2 linked regions of the Homo sapiens genome follow. The protein of the gene in region 1 purifies or fractionates together with the protein of each later gene. This does not show direct contact. Each region holds a gene or a part of one and is shown in the gene's direction. Other genes may lie near its edges.

The links. Proteins that work in one complex are often made in the same cells at the same time.
Region 2: the proteins of EIF5A2 (region 1) and DOHH purify together in Homo sapiens (affinity purification with mass spectrometry; 3 studies listed by BioGRID and IntAct, with this or other methods). This does not show direct contact.

What each region holds. Positions count from the first base shown.
Region 1 is NC_000003.12:170,891,163-170,898,983, reverse strand, and holds part of EIF5A2 (eukaryotic translation initiation factor 5A-2), read left to right. Parts: intron 1-4,560; coding exon 4,561-4,692; intron 4,693-5,564; coding exon 5,565-5,624; 3' UTR 5,625-7,821. UniProt on the Homo sapiens protein: Translation factor that promotes translation elongation and termination, particularly upon ribosome stalling at specific amino acid sequence contexts.
Region 2 is NC_000019.10:3,490,675-3,497,816, reverse strand, and holds the end of DOHH (deoxyhypusine hydroxylase), read left to right. Parts: intron 1-203; exon of another isoform or gene 204-459; intron 460-773; exon of another isoform or gene 774-930; 5' UTR 931-1,002; coding exon 1,003-1,276; intron 1,277-1,411; exon of another isoform or gene 1,412-1,586; intron 1,587-1,662; exon of another isoform or gene 1,663-1,702; intron 1,703-3,712; coding exon 3,713-3,789; intron 3,790-3,905; coding exon of another isoform or gene 3,906-4,046; exon of another isoform or gene 4,047-5,302; intron 5,303-5,317; coding exon 5,318-5,555; intron 5,556-6,005; coding exon 6,006-6,325; 3' UTR 6,326-6,993; downstream 6,994-7,142. UniProt on the Homo sapiens protein: Catalyzes the hydroxylation of the N(6)-(4-aminobutyl)-L-lysine intermediate produced by deoxyhypusine synthase/DHPS on a critical lysine of the eukaryotic translation initiation factor 5A/eIF-5A.

The sequences.
Region 1 (7,821 bases):
GTTCTTGAGAAAAATACACTGAAGTTTTAATTGCTGAAAAGTCATGGCTGTTGCACTGAAGTATTTATTGCTGAAGAATCATGATCTTTGGAACTTACTCTCAATAGTTCTGTAAAAATAATAAGAATATATATGATATATATATATATTGGATGTATACATAGAGAAAATAGTGCACATGTGATTAAATGTGAACAATGGATGTATCTAGGTAAAGGATATGGGATTTCATTGCATTATTGCAACTTTTCTATAGAACTTAAGATTTTTTAATAAATAATTCAATTTAAAAGATTGTATTAGTCCATTTTCACACTGCTATAAAGAACTACCTGAAACTGAGTAACTTATAAGAAAAGAGATTTAACTGATTCACAGTTCCACATGGCTGGGGAGGCCTCAGGAAACTTACAATCATGGAGGAAGGTGAAAGGGAAGCAAGGCATGTTTTATATGGCAGCAGGAGAGACAGCAAGCAGGGGGGATCTGTCAAACACTTTTAAGCCATCAGATCTCATGAGAACTCACTTACTATCATGAGAACAGCATGAGGGAAACTGCCCCCATGATCCAATCACCTCCTACCAGGTTCCTCCCTTGACATGTGGGGATTATAATTCAAGATGAGATTTGGGTGAGGACACAGAGCCAAATCATATTATTCTGTCCCTGGCCCCTTCCAAATCTCATGTTCTCACTTTCAAAACACAATCATGCCTTCTCAACAGTCCCTGAAAGTCTTAACTCATTCCAGCATTAACCCAAAAGTCCAAGTCCAAAGTCTCATCTGAAACAAGGGAAGTCCCTTCCGCCTATGAGCCTGTAAAATGAAAAGCAAGTCAGTTACTTCCTAGAAACAATGAGGATACAGGCATTGGGTAAATACTGTTATTTCAAATGGGAGAAATTGGCCAAAACAAAGGAGCTACAGGTCCCATACAAGTCCGAAACCTAGCAGGGTAGCCATTCAGTCTTAAAGCTCCAAAATAATCTCCTTTGCCTCCATGTCTTACATCCAGGGCACACTGATCCAAAAGGTAGGCTCCCAAGGTCTTGGGCAGCTCCACCCCTGTGGCTCTACAGGGTACAGCCTCTGCAGCTGCTTTCACTGGTTGGTATTGAGTGCCTGTGGCTTTTCCAGGCACATGGTACACCATTCTGGAATCTAGAAGATGGTGACCCCCCTTCTCACAGCTCCACTAGGCAGTGTCCCAGTGGGGACTCTGTGTGGGGGATCTAACCTGACATTTCCCTTCCACACTGCCCTAGCAGAGGTTCTCCATGAGGGCTCTGCCCCTGCAGCAGACTTCTGCTTGGACCTCCAGGCATTTCATACATCCTCTGAAATCTAGGCGGAGGCTCCCAAACCTCAACTCTTGCCTTCTGTGTACCTGCAGGCCCAACACCACATGGAAGCCACCAAGGATTAGGGCTTACACTCTCTGAAGCAACAGCCCAAGCTGTACCTTGACCCCTTTTAGCCACAGCTGGAGCTGGAGTGGCTGGGACACAGGGCACCAAGTCCCGAGGCTATACAGAGCAGCAGGGCTCTGGGCCTGGCCCATGAAACCATTTTTCCCTCCTAGGCCTCTGGACCTGTGTTGGGAGGGGATGCCATGAAGATATCTGGAATGCCCTGGAGACATTTTCCCCATTGTCTTGGCTATTAATATTCAGCTCCTTGTAACTTATGCAAATTTCTGCAGCTGGCTTGAATTTCTTCCCAGAAAATGGGTTTTTCTTTTCTACTACATGGTCAGGATGTACATTTTTCAAACTTCTATGCTATGCTTCCCTTTTAAACATGAGCTCCAGTTTCAGATCATCTCTTCATGAATGCATATGACTGTACACTTTCAAAAAAAGCCAGGTTACCTCTTGCACACTTTGCTGCTTAGAAATTTCTTATGCCAGGTAACCTAAATCATCTCTCTCAAGTTCATAGTTCCACAGATCTCTAGGGCAGGGCAAAATGCTGCCAGTCTCTTTGCTAAAGCACGGCAGGAGTGACCTTTGTTCCAGTTCCCAGTGAGTTCCTCATCTCCATCTGAAACCACCTCAGCCTGGACTTCACTGTCCATATCATTGTCAGCATTTTGTTCAAATCCATTCAACAAGTCTCTAGGAAGTTTCAAATTCTCCCTCATCTTTCTTTCTTCTGAGCCCTCTAAACTGTTGCAGTCTCTGCCTGTTACCCAGTTCCAAAGTTGTTTCCTTATTTTCAGGCATCTTTATAGCAGTGGCCCAAACTCCTGGTACCAATTTTCTGTATTAGTCCTTTTTCACACTGCTATAAAGAACTACCTGAGACTGGGTAATTTATAAAGAAAAGAAATTTAATTGAGTCACAGTTCCACATGGCTATGGAGGCCTCAGGAACCACGGCAGAAGGCGAAGGGGAAGCAAGGCACATCTTACATGGCAGCAGGAGATACAGCAAGTGAGGGGGGAACTGCTAAACACTTTGAAGAGAACTCACTCACTATCATGACAACAGCATTGCGGAGACTGACCCCATGATCCAATTGCGTCCCACCAGCTCCCTCCCTCGACATGTGGGGATTACAATTCAAGATGAGATTTGGGTGGGGACACAGAGCCAAACCATATCAAAGATTAAATAATTCATTCTCATTATTTTTGTTTTTCGTAGCTTAGTTTTATTTTTGAAAACTAATTGTATTTAATATAGCAATTTATCTTAATGTTTAATGTTTGTAAATGCATTGTTTTACTAGATGTTTTATATATTTGTACATCTGAAATGCTTTATATATTTCATTCCACAGTTTATGATTCTTAACTCTTAAAAAATAAAATAGCTCCATTACATACATCATTTTCAAAATATCAGTATTATTATTTGGCTTCTGTGTTTCAGTCACTAGTGGCACAGTACGAACATTTAACTCTTGAAATAGACAAGCTGTGCTTTAGGGAATTACTAAAAGAACAGAAATCAGAAAGATTTGTCTTGGAATGTTGTGGTTGTTTAAAAATTACACTTCAAGCTAGGTGCATTGGTGCACACCTATAGTCCCAGCTCCTTGGAAGGCTAAAGCAGAGGCTCACTTGACCCCAGGAGTTCGAGGCCAGCCTAGGCAATATAATGAGACGCCCATCTTTAAAAATATATATATTTTTTAAAAAGTTACACTTCTACCTCAACCTCCTTGCTCCCACTTCTCTACCAGCCACCTCACAAATATTTGAGGGTCTAAGAGGTTAGTTAAAAGTCTTTGTTGTAGCTCTGTAGGATTTCTTATTTTTGAGATTTCTAGACATATAAAAACTCAAATTTCCTGTGATAGATGGAGTTTCTGTGGAGAGCCATAGGCAGTTTTGGTAGATGGTGTATGTGGAGGAGAGCAATCCCAACGATATGCCTGGGTTATATCATAGTGGTTACAGGGGTTCAAGGACCATTGTCTTTGACTCCTTTTGTAGATATTAGTAGCTGGTATTCTGGATGGTAGCCTTTTATAAAACATGTTAGGATTCGAGGCATACTAATAGTGTACATGCTTTTATTAATAGAATAAATGAGTGGAGGTTGGTTGTTTACTCATTCCTGTAGTAAAAGAAGTTCAGTGGTATCAAAACCGTGCTTTTTTGCAGGTTGGGTTGACAACTGGGTTTTTTTTTTTCACTAATGTTATCCATACACTAGTGGATTTTGTTGTTGTTGTTGTTGTTGACTGAAGACCAAAAGTTTTCCACTTAATTTTGTTCATACTCAAATTAGAAAATGCATTGTTTGTAATAGCAAAAATAACTTTTATGCCCAGTAATGTGAAATTGGTTAAATCAGTAATAGTATGTCCATGCAGATATGTGGTAGTTAACTAAGGTAGGTTTACATTTTCTGCTTAGAAAGTATTTATAAGACATATTATTAAGTCAAAACAGCTCACTGTAAAGTACTTATAATATCTCTTTTTTTTTTTTTTTTTTTTTTGAGACAGAGTCTCGCTCTGTCGCCCAGGCTGGAGTGCAGGGGCACGATCTTGGCTCACCGCAAGCTCCACCTCCTGGGTTCACGCCATTCTCCTGCCTCAGCCTCCCAAGTAGATGGGACTACAGGTGTCTGCCACCACACCTGGCTAATTTTTTGTATTTTTAGTAGAGATGGGGTTTCACCGTGTTAGCCAGGATGGTCTCAATCTCCTGACCTCATGATCCGCCCGCCTCGGCCTCCCAAAGTGCTGGGATTACAGGCGTGAGCCACCGCACTTGGCCCAATATCCCATTTTGATTAAAAAAAAAAACAAAACAGCAACTATATTTATTTTGTGAACATAAATGGAATACACTATAAAGAAACCTAAACTGTTTAACAAGGCAGAGATTGGGTATGGGAAGTACCGGGAGGAGTAAACTTATATTTCCATTCTGTACATATTTTATATTTTTTATATTTTTAGCATTTTAAATACCAAGAATATTAATATATTACTGTATACTTATATGAATTAATATCAATTGCAATTTAACTATGTAAGCATTACACAGAAGTGGATATAATCTAATCAGCACAAATGATATAATTTCTTCTAATAGCTGATATGCATTCAAGATGGTTACCTTTCCCTGCTGACAGAAACTGGTGAAGTTCGTGAGGATCTTAAACTGCCAGAAGGTGAACTAGGCAAAGAAATAGAGGGAAAATACAATGCAGGTGAAGATGTACAGGTAAAGACTTAGAGAAGGATTATTTTTGAAAACCATTTTATAAAAACTTTGACCTCAACTAGTTAACATAAAATACTACATATGGAATGTGGTTTAAAAATACTGCTAAAATGTTGAAAATGATCTCTCAGGCAGGTTTTCCATAAAACCCTTAGAGACTCATTATCAAAGAAAGTATCAAAGTTCATTTTTGCTACATCAGCATTACTCTCAAACCCAAATTTGTTTTGAAGCTCTGCACCTGACTTTTTTTTTTTTTTTGAGACGGAGTCTCCCTCTGTCACCCAGGCTGGAGTGCAGTGGCGTGATCTCGGCTCATTGCAACCTCCGCGTCCCAGGTTCAAGCGATTCTCCCCTCAGCCTCCTGAGTAGCTGGGATTGCAGGCGCGTGCCACCACATCTGGCTAATTTTTGTATTTTTAGTAAAGATTGGGTTTCAGCATGTTGGCCAAGCTGGTTTTGAACTCCTGACCTCAGGTGATCCCCCAACCTTGGCCTCCCAAAAGTGCTGGGATTACAGGCCTGAGCAAGGCGCCCAGCCCTGAGCTATTCTTACAGGTAAGAAATGATGCTAGTGGAATGTTAAAGAGTGAAGGAGATTTACTGTCTTCGTTACAACTTTCAGAAATGTAACGGGTAGTAAGTGTTCAAACATTTATAGTTATTTTTCCTGTTCCCTGGAAGTTGTCTTACAAACCACTCTGAGAAATTCTGCTTTAGAAAACTGTAAAGAAAGTAGCTTGTTTTGGAATACCCCTTTCAGAAGTCCATATGTACAAAATATCCACAAATATACAATATATGAGGAACTAATTATATCTTCTATATGTATTGTCTTCTGAATAACGTTTTGCCTGCTTTTTTCCTTCTAGGTGTCTGTCATGTGTGCAATGAGTGAAGAATATGCTGTAGCCATAAAACCCTGCAAATAAACGGAAACATCAGGCATGAACACTGTTTATGTCTGAATCAACTGCAGATCTAATTTGGTTCTAAGTTGTCACCAAAGCTATAGCCTTCATAAGCAACCTCATTTCTTTTTTTAATTGTTTTCAGATTGTGCTGGGTTAGTTTTGCAAGCAATTGATAATTTTTAAAAAATTATCAATATGTATAATTTTTTTTGAATTTTGTAGATATGTTTCCTATAATATTCCTGTGGTTTTCAGTATGTCAGTCCAAGAAACAAACAAGATAGCTTCAGCAGATGTGATTTGTCTGAGCAAATCATTCCTGTGTTTTAGTTAGATGATAAACCAGGGTTTTAAATCAAACAATGTAGCATAAAGTGGTATTGAAGTACCATATTTAAGTTGAACTGCTCTGCATTAATTACAGATTTAATATAAAATGAACTGATTATATATTGGAATTGTTGCACTTTCAGCCTGTGTAGGGCAAACACAAATCCTTAAACAAAAATCATGTTATCAAAAACTGTCAGTTATTTTGGTGGCCACATGCAACCATGTGATTACTTTGGTCATACTATTTACCAAATTGTTGGCAAACTTGATGTAACCTTATATGGTGGTTTTAGTCCCTTCTTATGGTTGGCAGAAGGGCACTGAACTGTTGGGTGAAAGTTAGTTAGCAAGTAAGATTATAAGGAAGACACAAAAGACAGTGGCAAAGAGGGTTGATTAAATCTATAAGTTTTTATGTGAGGACTTTGTAAGTCAGCATAAAAATGAAAAGTTGTTTCTCAGTTGTTTTTGCTTTTAACTTTGCCCCCAACGTTTAAAGGGAGTGATCTGCTTTACATGATACTATGCAATGCTTGTTTTCCAACTATGTTGAATAAATAGTAATATTTATCAGTAAATACTCCTTTCCAACTTCCTTTTTTTTTTTTTTTTTTTTGAGACTGAGTCTCACTCCATCAGCCAGGCTGGAGTGCAGTGGTGCAATCTCGGCTCACTGCAACCTCTGCCTCCCGAGTTCAAGCAATTCTCCTGCCTCAGCCTCCCAAGTAGCTGGGACTACAGGTGCATGCCACCACGCCCAGCTACTTTTTTGTGTATTTTAGTAGAGATGGGGTTTCACCATGTTGTCTAGGCTGGTCTTGAACTCCTGACCTCAGGTGATCCACCTGCCTCAGCCTCCCAAAGTGCTGGGATTACAGGCATGAGCCACCACACCCAGCCCCTTTCCAACCATTTCTAAGTAGATTTTTTGACATTAATGTATTTATTAAACAAAAACTGAGAATTCCTTAAATTGATTTGGAATTTTTGTTAATTTTATGTCCTTTTTTTCCTAAAGTGAATTAAAGTGAATCATGGAAGCAGCATTACTTTATATGAATATTATTATTTAAGTTAAGTTATTTTAAGTATATGCATTTTTTCTGATTGTTGTGTGACTTAATTCAGTTGCTGGTGTGAACTATAACTAGCAAATAATTCTATAAACTGAATTATTTTAAAAGGTATTTTAGGTGACACCACTGCATTTCTATTTCATCTTTTGAGTCATATGTATATTATTTCCAGAATTTTAGACATTATTACAGGGTTTGTGAGGACCTTTGACTCAGTGACAATCATCATATTGGAGCAAAACATAGAACAAAATCACTATCTCAGAAATACCTTAATTCTCTAAGACTGGCTCTTAGACCTCTCCCATCATGCCTTGACCTCTAAAAAGCCCTTTGTTCCTATCTTCTAAAGGAAAGTATATCATATATGATGATGTAACTGATCTAATCAGTGACTGGAAATAGCATTAGTAACAGAAGATCCCAAGTTTTAGTTGCTTAATTTGTACACACTTTTAAATATTGTCTTAGCCTCGGCAAACCAATTTGGGGAAGAAGCAAGATACTTTAAGAGAAATACAAAGGAAATTTCTAAAGCACAAGAAATAGTGAGGTAGTAGTTAGTCGTCTTTCCTACAACATTTTAGCTTTTGCCCATCTAAAGCACAATTAAAATTAGGCTACATTCTTTCCAGTATTCTATTTAAGTACCTACTACATACTGCTCTAGTTTCTTAGTACTCTGTAATGTGTATCTTAATTGCTACTGGTTGGCATTGTAACTCATAGGAATTCCAGAAAATTATTAATCCGTGCTGCTTGCAGTTCATTCATATGGCCCCTCTTAACCATGCTGGTGTTATGAT
Region 2 (7,142 bases), on another chromosome or scaffold:
ATCTCTACAAATAATAAAAAAAAAATTAGCTGGGCATGCTGGTGTGTGCCTGTAGACACAGCCACTAGGAAGTCTGAGGCAGGAGGATCACTTGAGACTGGGAGTTCGAGGCTACAGTGAGCCGTGATCATGCTGCCGTACTCCAGCCTGGCGACAGAACAAGATCCTGTCTCAAAAACAAACAAAAAAACATACTTGGTTACCTTCAACAACAGTAAACAGTGTCGCACACAGTTGCTCTGGGCCTGGCTTAGCTGGCTGGCTCTGGGTCTGGCCTCTGGTAAGGCCTCAGTGGAGACGCTCTGGGGCTGCATCATCTGAAGGTTCGCTTGGGGCTGGACGAGCTGCTGCCAGCCCACTTCTCTCACATGGCTGTTGGTGGGAGGGCTCAGTTTTTTGCCACGTGGGCCCCTACAAAAGACTGCTTGAGCATCCTCACAACATGGTCACTGGCTTCCCCTAGAGAGAGAACAAGGATGAGACTGTTGTGCTTTTTATGCCCTAACCTTGGAAGTCTTGCTCTGTTCCATCTTCTTGGCATTCACATGGGTCAGCCCTGTTCAGAGTGGGAGAGGACTATATAAAGCCTTGAATATTGGGTGGGGATCGCTATATAAAGCCTTGAATATTGGGTGGGGATCGCTAGGGCCATTTTGGGGGTCAGCTGTCCCTCTGGCTGCTGTGTGGAGAGCAGACAGTGGAGGTCATTTCTGATAGGCCTATAGGCGAGAGGCAGTGCAGAGACTGAGGCCCAGAGAGGGAAAGCAACTTACGGAAGGCTGCACAGCTAGTAGGGAGGTTGGAGCTGAGCTTTCAGCGTAGATGCTCAGGTTGGTCAGTGGGTAGGAATTTGCCCCACCCAGGTCCTAGGAACAGACAACGCACTGGTGAAGGGGGCTTCTAACCTGGGCTCTCATTTTTCTGCCACAGGTTCTTACATCCCCGCGTCCCCAGGTTTAGCCTGAGCAGGGTTGTGGAAGGCCGGGACCCATTGACAGCACGATGGTGACGGAGCAGGAGGTGGATGCCATCGGGCAGACGCTGGTGGACCCCAAGCAGCCCCTGCAGGCCCGCTTCCGGGCGCTGTTCACGCTGCGTGGGCTCGGCGGCCCAGGCGCCATTGCATGGATCAGCCAGGCCTTCGATGACGATTCCGCCCTGCTCAAGCACGAGCTGGCCTACTGCCTGGGCCAGATGCAGGATGCCCGCGCCATCCCCATGCTGGTGGACGTGCTGCAAGACACCCGTCAGGAGCCCATGGTGCGCCATGAGGCAGGTGAGCACCTGTCTGTGTCCCGGGCACCTGCTCCCTCCTGCCTCACTTCTTCATGACCCCACGTGTCCCCTTCCTCACTCAGGTGATAAATATCAGAGTGGTCAACTGCCCCATAGAGCACCAGATAGTAAATACCTGCAGCTCTGCAGCCAGACAGCGACTCAATAAAGCCAGCGCAGGTCATCTGTCACCAAATGGCTAAGGCTGTGTGCCCAGACAACCTCAACTGGGCAGGGGGCGGTGGCTCAGGCCTGTAATCTTAGCACTTTGGGAGGCCCAGGAAGGTGGATCGTTTGAACTCAGGAGTTCAAGACCATCCTGGGCAACATGGCAAAACCCTGTCTCTAGAAAAAATACAAAAATTAGCCAGGCATGGTGGCATGCACCTGTAGTCGCAGCCACTTGGGAGGCTGAGGCGGGAGAATCGCTGGAGCCCGGGAAGTCAAGGTTGCAGTGAGCCATGATCGTGCCACCGCACTCCAGCCTGGGCAACAGAGTGAGATCCTGTCTGTGAAAAAACAAAAAACAAACTTCATTTGTAAATGCTGAGATTTGAATTTCATATAAATTCCACCCATCAGGAAGTACTATCCCTTTGATTTTTTGTTTTAAACCATTTATTTGTTTGTTTTGAGTCAGAGTCTCACTCTGTCGCCCAGGCTGGGGTACTGTGGTGCCGTCTTGGCTCACTGCAACCTCTGCCTCCCGGGTTCAAGTGATTCTCCTGCCTTAGCCTCCCAAGTAGATAGCGTTACAGGTGTGTGCCACCACGCCTGGGTAATTTTTGTATTTTTAGTAGAGATGGGTTTTGCCATGTTGGCCAGGCTGGCCTTGAACTCCTGGCCTCAAGTGATCCACCTGCCTCGGCCTCCCAAAGTGCTGGGATTACAGGCATGAGCCATCGCACCCCGCCTTAAACCCTTAAAAGTGTTTTAAAAACCATTCTTTGCTCGTATAAAAACAAGCGACAAGCCATAGATCCCCAATCCCTAATGTATATTAGATTTACTCCACTCATTGGACACACATTTAGTGAGCACCTACTGTATGCCAGGCTCTGTCATGTAGTAAGAGACAAAACAGTGACAATACAGATACAAGCCGGGCATCGTGGCTCACGCGTGTGGTCCCAACTACTCAGGAGGCTGAGGCAGGAGGATTACTTGAGCCAGGGAGGTTGAGGCTGCAGTTAGCCATGATCATGCCACTGCACTCCAGCTTGGGCAACAGAGTGAGACCCTGTCTCAAAAAAATGGACTGTTCAGGTCGGGTGCATTGGCTCACGCCTGTAATCCCAGCACTTTGGGAGGCTGAGGCGGGTGGATCACCTGAGGTCAGGAGTTCAAGACTAGCCTGGCCAACATGGTGAAACCCCGTCTCAACTAAAAATACAAAAAAAAGTAGCTGGGCGTGGTGGCCGGCGCCTGTAATCCCAGCTACTTTGGGAGGCTGAGGCAGGAGAATCACTTGAACCCAGGAGGCGGAGTTTTCAGTGAGTGGAGATCGCGCCATTGTACTCTAGCCTGGGTCACAAGAGCGAAGCTCTAAAAAAAAAAAAAAAATGGACTGTTGTAGCGAGGGACCTAGACAGCGAAGGAGACCAGTGAGGCAGGTAGTTGGTGCGTCTGTGCCACTGGGACTGTGTTTCTGTAACCAGTGAGCTCATTTGCAATTAGCGCGTGGGAGGTGCCTGACACAGAGCCTGTGTTGGCGCATACGGGACTTTTCCCGGCAGAGGGAGCCTGCCAGGCAGGTGCACAAACGCAAACCGCAACCTTCAGGAAAGGCAAAAGCCACCAGCTCAGCTGCCTCACAGGCAGGGCCCTTGAGCTCGATTCTGAGAAAATTCAAGGAACATCTGCACCCAGGGCTCTACGGGGAGCCGCCGCCAGCCTTGCTCCGACCTGGGCTTGCGACGCCTGCACTTGCGCCTGTACCCGAACCCACCTAAGTGTAGCCCCAGTGGCCCCAAATTCTGGAGTCTCCAGCCGGCAGGCCCGGCCTGTTTTGGGAATTTTTTTTGTTTGTTTTTTTGAGACAGGGTCTCACTCTGTCGCCCATGCTGGAGTACAGTGGTGTGATCATAGCTCACTGCACCCCCGACCTCCTGGGTTCTTGGAGCTGCTTGTCAGCTGTGATCCCGAGTTGTAGGGATATACTTGTCTCCCTGTCTCATGGTACGGGCCGGGATGGGGTCCATTTTGCTCTGAGCGGCAGCCAGGTGCGGTTCCAGGCAGTGCCTTGCTCTGGGGAGGGGATGCTGATTGGTCCAGCGGGGAGCCTGTACCGACTGCTGCTCCAATCAGCCGTGGACAGAGGCGGGGCTTCCCCACAGTGGCAGAGCCCTGGGAGGGGTGTCCTCCGGTCCCAGAGGTAGCCGGGCATTTTCCACACATCCACCCCACCAACATGAGCTCTCCGGCTGCTTCTTCCCAGGGGAGGCCCTGGGGGCCATCGGGGACCCGGAAGTTCTGGAGATCCTGAAGCAGTATTCCTCGGACCCCGTCATCGAGGTAACCAGGCCCCTGCTTGTCTCCCTGCCAGTCTCGGGTCCCTGGGAAGCCCTGCCCAGCCCTGCCCCAGCCCTGACCTGGAGCAGCCTCAGACCCTCCCCATCTCTGGTTGCCAGGGCGACCACTTGGCCAAGGATGCCCCAGGGATGAGGAAGGCGAGGGCGACAATCTGGACAGACACTTGCTGCGCCCCATTTGGCAAAACGGCGACAACCAGCTTTGCTCACCCGCTTCCATCCCGGGCCTTGAGCCCCTGAGCCGGCCTGACCCCCTTTCTCTGAACCCCCACGTCCAGTCCCTCTGCCAAGACCCCTCTGAACCCACCCAGTGCCCTCTACCTCTGATACCTTGTCCTGGCCCACCAGACCTCTTCAGAGATCTCCTGCTACCTTCCAACATTTCTTCTTTTTTTTTTTTGAGACGGTGTCTCGCTCTGTCGCCCAGGCTGGAGTGCAGTGGGCGCGATCTCGGCTCACTGCAAGCTCTGCTTCCCAGGTTCATGCTATTCTCCTGCCTCAGCCTCCAGAGTAGCTGGGACTACAGGCGCCTGCCACCACGCTCAGCAAATCTTTTCGTATTTTTAGTAGAGACGGGGTTTCACCATGTTAGCCAGGATGGTCTCGATCTCCTGACCTCGTGATCCACCCGCCTTGGCCTCCAAAGTGCTGGGATTACAGGCGTGAGCCACCGCGCCTGGCCCAAAAATGAAACAAATTTTTATTTTATTAGTTTTTTCTTTATAGAGATGAAGTCCCGCTCTGTCGCCCAGGCTGGTGTTGAACTCCTGGGCTCAAGCGATCCTCCTGCCTTGGTCTCCCTAACTGCTGGGATTAGGGGCATGAGCCGCTTCGGCCGGCCCGTCATTCCTTTTTGTGGCTGAGTCACGTTCCGTGGTGTGGACGGCCCATGCTGTGTCCACTCACTGTGGCTGGATGCTTGAATTGTCTCTGCTTTTTAGCTGTTATGAGTTATGCCGCCACGGACATGCATGTTCCTTTCTCCCCTGCCACTTCTTGTCCACATCCCACCCCGACCCTCAGTCTCTCCTCCTCCGGGGCAGCCGGGGGTACGTGTGACACTCAATTCTGCTGTTCTGTTCCATGCTTAAAGCTCTCACGATATCTCATCACCTTTAGGACAAAATCCCAAGCCCTTACAGTGGCCCGCAGGCCTTACCTGGTCAGGTGGGGCCGCACATGTTCCTTTGGCCCTCACCCCTCCCGCAGGGTCCTGCCTCAGGGCCTTTCCACCGCTGCTTCCCCATCCCCGGGTCTCCACCTGATTCCCTCCCTAAGCTGGCTTAGGTCTCTGCCTCCACATCACCTCCTCCCTGAGGCCCTCCCCAGCCCTCCAGTCCCCCGGTCACTCACAAGTCAGCCACCCCTGCTGGCTTACTTCCTGCCTGGAATGATGGGTTAGTCACCCTGCCAGTGTCTCTCTCCCCTGCTAAGCTGCCATCCCGGGGGGTGGGGAAGGGCCCCTGCGACCCCCCAGGGCCAACCCGCTGCCTGATACCCCCTCCCCGCAGGTGGCCGAGACCTGCCAGCTGGCCGTGCGCAGGCTGGAGTGGCTGCAGCAGCACGGCGGGGAGCCGGCGGCGGGACCCTACCTCTCCGTGGACCCTGCCCCGCCGGCTGAGGAGCGTGACGTGGGGCGCCTGCGGGAGGCGCTGCTGGATGAGTCCCGGCCGCTCTTCGAGCGATACCGCGCCATGTTCGCCCTGCGCAACGCGGGAGGCGAGGAGGCCGCCCTGGCGCTGGCCGAGGGTGAGGAGGGGCTTCTGGGGTGGGGTCCTGGGCAGTGCCTCGCTGTGAGGTTCAGTGATGGCATCTGTGCAGTGGGGCCGCGGCCTGCCCCCGGGAACGGCATCCCGGGCCTGGCCCCAAGCATTTCCCATGGGGCCTCTTAAGAACCCGTGCAAGCGTCCCTCTTGGTCCCCATAGCTCCCAGCTTTTCCCGCCCCCATAGCTGCGGTCAGTTCCCCCGGGCATCCCTAATCACTGGGGCTGGGGGCAGGGGTGTCTTCAAGGTAGAACACCCCAGGTTGGGCGTGGTGGCTCACGCCTGTCGTCCCAGCACTTTGGGAGGCCGGGATGGGAAGATCGCCAGGACTTTGTGACCTGCCTGGGCAAGATAGCAAGACCCCATGTCTTCGAAAAGACAGAGCTCCCCTTCCCACCCCTCCTGGCCCCAGCGAGTGTCCCTCTCCCCTGCAGGTCTGCACTGTGGGAGCGCCCTCTTCCGCCACGAGGTCGGCTACGTCCTGGGACAGCTGCAGCACGAGGCGGCGGTGCCCCAGCTGGCGGCCGCCCTGGCCCGATGCACCGAGAACCCCATGGTGCGGCACGAGTGCGCGGAGGCCCTGGGCGCCATTGCCCGGCCCGCCTGCCTGGCCGCGCTGCAGGCTCACGCGGACGACCCAGAGCGCGTGGTGCGTGAGAGCTGCGAGGTGGCTCTGGACATGTATGAGCACGAGACCGGGCGGGCCTTCCAGTACGCGGACGGCCTGGAGCAGCTGCGCGGGGCCCCCTCCTAGGGCCCCACCCTCACCCGGAGCTCCCGGAGGACTCTTGAGGGCCGCTCCTCCCCCGCAGAGCTTTGGCGTCTAAACCGGGTGTGTGTAAATCGGTGTCATCGCTTGTGTCTTGCTGGGCGCATGGTTGCTGTCCCCCTCCTCCGTCTGGGACCGAGGAGCTGCCGTTGTGCTGTGACTCCCTGAGTCCCCTGACTGCTCCTCGGGGCCTGGCGCAGGGCTGTAGCGTGGAAGTTTCCAGGCTTGGGGTGGGACTCTGCGGGAGGCTCTGGGATGCCCGGCTCAGGACAGGGGAGGATTGCGAGGGAAGCCAGGGGAGGATCGCGAGGGAAGCCAGGGGAGGATCGCGAGGGAAGCCAGGGGAGGATCGCGAGGGAAGCCAGGGGAGGATCGCGAGGGAAGCCAAGGGAGGATCGCGAGGGGAGCCAGGGGAGGATCGCGAGGGAAGCCAGGGGCAGAGCTGGGGCTCTGGGAAGAGGCTGACGTTATGGTGGCTTCAGCTTCACTAGGAATGGGACACAGGGTCTGGGGGCCTCTGACTCCCCCACCCCGAGGCCTGGGTAGGGACAGGGTGGTGGTCCCTGAGTGGGTCAGGTAGGGCACAGGGGCCAGGGAGGGACAAGCAGACCTCAGAGCGCTGCCCAGATGGAATATTAAATTATTTTTGCCAAGCACTGACTCCTCTGAGTGTGTTGGGTGAGGGGAGCGTGGGAGGGAGGGAGGGGTGGGGGCTTTCAGGGAACGTTCCCCGAGAGTGTGTGGCGTCTGGGCGGGGAGACGGTTGTATCCGCAGCCATTGGCTCTAGGATCTGTCCTGCTG